Linked DNA regions of Homo sapiens. The protein of the gene in region 2 interacts with the protein of the main gene of each other region in a pairwise test. Each region holds a gene or a part of one and is shown on either strand. Other genes may lie near its edges.

Region 1 (3,818 bases), on a different chromosome or scaffold from region 2:
CAAGAAATCTTGCACAAGGTGGATTTTACATGGGGTATCATGCACAAGATTAAAAACAAGACCAAAAGGTGGAAATTTTAAAAGAGGAAAATATAAAGGCTCCAAGGTTTAACTGCTCTGGGTAGAAGAGATCACATCTGTTGACTGAGGATCACAGAAAGGCCCAAAACGTCCATAAATATCCTTGGCTCGTACTGCAAAGTAGTATTTGCTACCAGATACAAACTGGGTGAGAGTACATGCCATGGGCAAGGGAAGTGCCTTGACTTCCCCAATCTTTTTCCATTGTGAGGGCACAGTGGCACTGGGTTCCTCATGGTAAGCATAGAGATGGTAGCTATCAACAGTGGCACAGCTTCGATCCACCTCCAGGACACTCCATGACAGTACTATGCCATTTTGACTCTGAACGCGTGCTAACTTCAAGTGTGGCTTCTGAGGCAGAGATGTGCTGGCAGCTTCTGGGGGCAGACGCTGTGGTTGTGGAGCTTCTGGTAAGGGTGCTGGGTGCACGGGGCGTGGGGGCTCCTGAAGAAACAGGTCACACTGATTAATGATGATTGCAAAAAGAACTATTTTAGAATGTTAGAATTAAAACACCTTAGAGAACATACGTAGAAGTATCATTTTATATCAAGAATTCTAGGAAATACCAAATACCATATCAAATTTGGCAAGTTCTATTTGGGGTTTTGTAATGAATCATGCTACAAACAATGATGCTGAGGTTATTCCTACTATACTTCCTAGACCTAAAATATTTTGAGTTTTTCTTAGGAAATAAAAAGCCCCTGCTGACGGAACATCATTTTGAGGAACACGGAAGTAATGATCTATTTCTAACAAAATAATTTATGATTGAATTATCTATGTTACAGATTATCATTTCAGTATGATGTAACATTTTTAAATATCATGTATGGCAACCAAGATCATATAAAATTGGAGAATACAAATATACTTTCATTTTTAAGTTATTTATAAATAAGCACATTAACACTAAATGTGTACTATATTCTTGGCCAATTTACAAGAAAAAGGTGATATTTAAACTCAACTGTGAAGGAGGATCCAGAGATGCAGAAATAATCATGTACCTTTCAGCCAAAAATAAAGCATGAGCAAAGGCATGTGGACAGTAAAGTGAGGGGACGTATGGACAAGAACAAGTATTAACTTTTTCTTGGACATAGGGTACATGAAGAAAAATCTGGAAAGGTAGGTTAAGGCCAGATGATGAAAAAACATGACTCTAACTTTAGGAAGTCCTATTGACTTTTCTAACACTGGAACATCATCATCATTATAATGATATTTCATACCAGTCAAACACTGACAAAATTGTGTCACAGGATAATGTGACATTGTTTTGGAGGCTAAATCTAAGGAGAAATCTTTGGTTATCTCTGTTACCTCTTAACTAATGAATTCCCAATATCATTGGATTCTTTAGAACAATTAATTGATGACAATGTAGCAGTTAGATGTGGCATAGTTTAGAACGAAAGAATAAAATTAACACATGGAGAAATGAAAAATGTCCTTTTTAATTTAACTATGAATTAGAAATGGTCTATATTTCACTTCATATACCCCAACTGTGGACCTGTTTTTGTACACTGTACACCACAAGCAAACTCAATGATTCTAAATGATCATCATCCCTAGGAACTATGTGTTCATAATGGTAAGATCAATTTTTAGAAATAAACTTCTGAAAAAGCAGGAAGACCTAACACTTCCCTTGGATATAACCATTTTAAAGAAAAATGCCAAATACAATAATATTTTATACCTCTACAGTTGAGAATTTTGCAAAACCAAGCATCAACACTTACAGTATGCACTTGTGGTGGTCGGTGATGCACTGTGAGCTGAGGTCCTGTTGATCCCAGGGTTAGTCCATTGTTTACAACATATGTGGTTGTTTGAGGCACTCGAACTGTAACACCTACAAACAAACAAAAAAATTACAGGATAAAATGATAATTCTATTGTAAATTTGGTGGAAAACTGATTAAATATTTGAAGGCAGTGAAGCAATGTTTTCAAGATTCGAAAGGAAAGATATTTCTAACCTAGAGGTCCTGTTCGTATTCAGCCAAGCTATCAATCAGCCTGTGGATAAAAAAACTTTCTTACATGCAAGCACTAAAAAAAAATTCTAACTACCACAAACCCTTTCTCAAATAGTCAATGGAGAATATGTGCCACCAGTACGTGAGAAAATAAAGAGAAAAACACGAGACACAAGCAACAGGAGGTCCAGCACAGGGAGAAATAAATGGATCGTTACCAGGAGAACTATGAACAAAAATCCTAGAACACTGGTTGTGTACCACATGTAAAAGGTAAATGGCCATAATGGAGCAGTGTGACTCAAAAGACAGACAAACTGGGAGTATCTTCATAAAAATCTCTGCAGTCTCATCTTTTCAACCAGGACAGAAAGCCAGAATAAGTCATCCTTGCCATGTATTAATGAGGTTCCTCTCATTTTCTCCATGCCCAGCTCCTTGGTTGAGGATACTCACTTCACCCCACAGAAAACTGCTGTGACATACACCAGGGAAACAAAAAGAGAAAATTTAGAGCCACCTACTGCCCTAACTATATTCCTGCCATTTATTCAGTACCTGGCCCATGCTGTAGTTCGGCCTGGTTCCTGGACTATAGTGAGCCAAGTTTCCCAGAACTCATTTCTAACCTTGTTGATTAATTTTCCCAGACAACGCTCTTGTAAACTTGAGAGAGTTGAAGCCAAGCTATGATCCAGGGACTCCAATCAGTTTATTTTCTAAATGATAGCATTACTGTGTTTCTTTAAATAGCTATATTTTCCCTTGCTGTCACATTTTGCAAAACTACAACATATGTGTGATGGTTAATACTGAGTGTCAACTTGATTAGATTGAAGGACACAAAGTATTAACCCTGGGTGGGCCTGTGAGGATGTTGCCAAAAGAGATTAACATTTGAGTCAGTGGACTGGGGAAGGCAGATCCACCCTTCATCTGGTGGGCACAATCTAATCAGCTGCCAGAAAATATAAAGCAGGCAGAAAAACGTGAAAAGGAGAGACAGGCTTAGCCTTAGCCTCCCAGCCTACATCTTTTTCCTGTGCTGGATGCTTCCTGCCCTGGAACATTGGCCTCCAAGTTCTTCAGTTTTGGGACTCAGACTGGCTTCCTTGCTCCTCAGCTTGCAGACAGCCTACTGTGGGATCTTTTTTTTTTTTTTTTTTTTTTTGAGACAGAGTCTGGCTCTGTTGCCCAGGCTGGAGTGCAGTGGCATGATCTCGGCTCACTGCAACCTCCGCCTCCTGGGCTCAAGAGATTCTCCTGCCTCAGCCTCCCAAGTAGGTGAGATTACAGGCTTGTGCCACCACACCCAGCCAATTTTTGTATTTTTGGTAGGGATGAGGTTTCACGATGTTGGCCAGGCTCATCTCGAACTCCTGACCTCAAGTGATCTGCCTGCCTTGGCCTCCCATACTGCTGGGATTACAGGCGTGAGCTACCATGCCCAGTCTATTGTGGGAACTTCTGATTATGTAAATTAATACTTAATAAACTCCCCTTTATATATATAAACATTCACTATATATAAAGTATTTTACATATATTTAATATTTATATATAATTAAGATATACTGTATATATATAGTAGGATATAAAGTATATATACAATTAGTTTATATGTAGTATATATTTTATGTATATACCCTATTAGTTTAATACATATATAATATATAAAATATATATATCCTATTAGTTTATATATAGTATATATTATATGAATACTATATATAGGAAACA
Region 2 (3,818 bases):
TGAATGTTGGGAGAAGACATTCAGTGTGGCTCCATGGATGGGTTAGGTTGGATTAGAGCTGAGTAAGAGACAATCCCTCAGATCATGGGAAAGAAAAAGAGATGAAGACGCTAAAGGAATAGGAGAAAGACGGAAGGAATGCCAGAAAGGACAGAAAAGGAAGAGAAAGAATGGGAGGTCAGGAGTTGCTGGAGATCACGATATGGTTAGATCTCACTTCCCCAGGCCCCACTCCTCCAAGGACCCAAGGAGTTTTTACTTTGGGGGCCCCCCAGGGCATTGGGGGAATTTGTGGATGGAATCAGAGGAGAGAGCTGGAGCCTTGGTCCTCTTGGGAGTGTCTCAAGCCTCTTTAGTCACCATGGAGATAGGTTGCCTCTGGCCTCAGAGACTCCCCCAGGGCCTGAGGCCCCTCAGCCACGATTTAGCCTTCCTCCAACTCAGGCACAACCAGAGACAGGGCAGACCCAGGAGAGCAAGAAGTGAGAGATGGAGAGAGAGAGAGTGCAAGCAAGCAACCCAGGGTGGCCAGAGCAAGGAGTGGAAAGTGGGGAGGGAGGTAGCATCACAGGCGGAAGGCAGAACTAGGAAGCCTCTGCTCATGAGCAGGGAACCCCCTAAGAGTGGGGGTGCAGGGCAGGTCAATGCAAAGAACTTAGGAATTCGCCATGTCTCCCCCAGGGCCCCGCTCCCTGCAGCTCAGGCTGGTGATCATGGTGGGGAGACACAGGGGAGGGCCAGCGAATTGCTGGGTGTTGCCTGTTGTTGGGATGAAGAGGCTGGGGAAGGGACTTGAGGGAAGGACTTGCCCTGGGGGAAGGTGGCTGGTGTAATCAAGAGGTTCTCTGCCTTCACCTAAGGCAGGAAGGAAGGCTGAATGCTACTCCCTACCAGGTGCTCCAGTCTGAGGTCTGTCAGAGGCAACTGTTTGAGCAGATTGGAAAAATCAAGCCTCAGATGGGGCAGGACTTGGGTATAGCTCCACCTGCCCTTTCTGGGTCATTCTTAGGAAGAAAGCCCTATAGACATGGGGCAAGGGGACACATTGCCAGACACCTCCATTTGAAGGCTGGTCAGAAGGCCACTTTCCCAGACGTGGATAGGGACATGGGGGTGGATGGCAAGATGGTAGGCTAAGATAGTGTGGGGTACAATGGGCAGGTCTAGGATGTGGCAAGAGGCAAAGAGAAGGGAAGGGGAAATTGAGGTAGGACCTGAGGACAAAGGGCTGCTTCCAGTCTCTCTCGCTGCTTCTCTCAGTTCCAGAAAATAAGAAACCAAAACTCCAAAAATAGAGAACTTTATTGTCAGGGTCAAGGGCATGTGGGACCCAGCCCCAGAAGCCTAGTGGTGAGGAAGAGGTTAATGCACAATACACACAGAAGGCACAATGGGAAGGTGCCCTCCCCTGGCAGACTCCCCACTCAGTTATCCACAGGACCCCAGGTCTCCCTGTTTCCCTCCTAGAGAAGCACCTAGGTCTGGTCTGACATAGAGACCTAGGTTTGGAGTAGACTTCTTACCCATTTCCCTCCCCACTTACGCTCACCTGCCTACCACCCCCAACCCATAAGGCCCAGTAGCTGGTCCAGGGTCCAGGGACTTGGCAAATCACAGGTCTCTCCCCAGTGGGGAGAGGGCAGGGAGGAGACCACAGAGCACACCCTCCCTTAATCTTCACTCAGCCTAATCCGTGTGCCCGGTGAGGCACTAAGGCCCCACCTCCCACTGCTGGCTCAGGCTGGCCCCCAACACGGGCAGGCACAGTAAACCTGCTCCATCACTCCCACACCTCGGTCCAGATGGCTCCGTGGTAGGGGTGGGGTAGGGGCTGGGGTGTGCTGAGCTGAAAGGGCTGGCCTACCTGCTTGCTGGGGTATTTGGGGGGGTTGGTGCGGTAGCTGTAGTCGGAGTACTGCTCAGAGCCCGTGGACGTGGTGTCCCCGGTGCCCACGAATGTGTTTGCAGGTGGCAGGTCCTGTACCACCTGGTGCTTCTTGGAGGCTGAGGGTGACTGGGGCTGCAGCTGGATGGAAGGCAGTGGGGAGTTAGAGCGATAGTGGCGGCCCAGGTCAGGGCTGCCTGGTGGGTAGTTGAGGGGCAGGTGGATGCGGGGACTGTCCCCAGGGGCATCGCTCATCAGGTTGAACTTGAGGGACTTCTGCAGCCCGGCCTCATCCTCGTCCTCCACTGGCTTCACGGGCTTTGGGGACTTGCTCTTCTTGCCTTTGCTTTTGTTTCCCTTGGAGGCCTTGCCACTGGGCTTGGGGGCATACAGGTCCTTGGTCTCCTTCTTACCAGCCTGGTAACCACTTTTGGCCTCCCGCTGTCTGCAGTAGCGCACAAGAACCGCCAGGGCGATGAGCAAGGCCACGGCCACCACACCAGCCACCACACCAAAGAGAATGTTGCCACGCTGCTTGGAGCGCTCATATTCTGGATCCCCAGCAATGTCAATATCCAGCGGCGTGTCCAGGCTGTGGCCCAGGAGGGTCTCCAGCAGCGTGCGGTTGGCCAGAGTCTCATTGACATAAAGATGGACCAAGGCTGTGCCATAGCGTGGGGGCTTGCCGCGGTCACTGACCTTCACCACCAGGCGGTGTAGCCCATGGTGGCGCCGCTCAATCTCCTTCTCCAGGGTGATGGCACCTGAATGTGACCCAATCTGGAAGAGTCCATAAGGGTTGCCACCTGCAATGCTGTAGATCAGCTCAGCATTGACACCAGAGTCAAAGTCCTCGGCTGCCACCTGGCTGACCGTCTCACCAAGACGTGTCTGGGGGGTCAGCAGCTTGTGAGAGGTGTTAGAAGGGGCAGTGATATAGGGTGCGTTGTCATTCTCGTCCAGCACATTGATGGTGACACCAACGTAAGCTGAGCGAGGTGGGACGCCACCATCCACTGCCTTCAGCTGGAAGGTGTAGGTGCTTTGTTGCTCTCGATCAAAGCTCAGGCTGGATAGGATGGTGCCTGTGCCATTCTGGATAACAAAGTCACCGTTGTCCTGCTCCACTGAGAGCTGCACCTGGGCATTCTCCCCCTTGTCTCCATCAATGACAGTCACCATGCCCACTGGACTCAGTGCTGGCATGTTCTCCATCACTGAGAAGTTGTAGCCACTCAGCATAAATTTGGGGTCATTGTCATTGCAGTCCAGCACATTGACAAGGACAGTGGCTGTGCCCTGGAGGCTAGGACTGCCCCGGTCAGCTGCCACCACCTTCAACTCATAGCTCTCCCGCTGTTCCCGATCCAGAGATGTCTTCACCTGGATCTCTCCAGTCTCGGGTGAGATGGTGAAGAGGCCCTTAGCAGCCGGCTCAGGCTCCAGAGAGTAAACCAGCTCAGCATTAGAGCCAGAGTCAGCATCACTGGCAGTGATCTCAGCAATCACTTCACCAGGCTTGTTGTTTTCCGGGAAGGCGACCTCAGTGACACTCTGAGTGAAGACAGGTGCGTTGTCATTGACGTCCACCACCTGCACCTTGAGGGAGTTAGTGCTGGAGAGTGGGGGGTTGCCAGAGTCCACAGCCACAATCTCAATGGTGTAGTCTTTGACCTTCTCGTAGTCTAGCGGGGTGGTAGTCTGCAGGAAATACTTCTTCTTGCTGTCACTGCCTGTCTCACTGGCCTGGCGCAGCTGGAAGGGCACATCACCTGCCACCACACAGGTGACAGCTGCATTCTCTCCCTCATCTCGGTCAGACACCTGCACCAGGGCCACAGCTGTCTCCTCTGCCACATCCTCTGAGATGTTAGCCATCCCATCTTGATGAGTCACTAGCCCTATGCCCCGGATCTCAATGGTGGGGGCATTG

What was found.
Region 1: the proteins of PCDH1 (region 2) and ATF7IP interact in a two-hybrid assay, tested with the Homo sapiens proteins (one large-scale study listed by IntAct).

What each region holds. Positions count from the first base shown.
Region 1 is NC_000012.12:14,494,364-14,498,181, reverse strand, and holds part of ATF7IP (activating transcription factor 7-interacting protein 1), read right to left. Parts: intron 1,952-3,818; coding exon 1,839-1,951; intron 529-1,838; coding exon 109-528; 3' UTR 1-108. UniProt on the Homo sapiens protein: Recruiter that couples transcriptional factors to general transcription apparatus and thereby modulates transcription regulation and chromatin formation. Can both act as an activator or a repressor depending on the context.
Region 2 is NC_000005.10:141,861,368-141,865,185, forward strand, and holds part of PCDH1 (protocadherin-1 isoform 2 precursor), read right to left. Parts: coding exon 1,865-3,818; coding exon of another isoform or gene 1,781-1,864; exon of another isoform or gene 1,285-1,780; intron 1-1,284. UniProt on the Homo sapiens protein: May be involved in cell-cell interaction processes and in cell adhesion.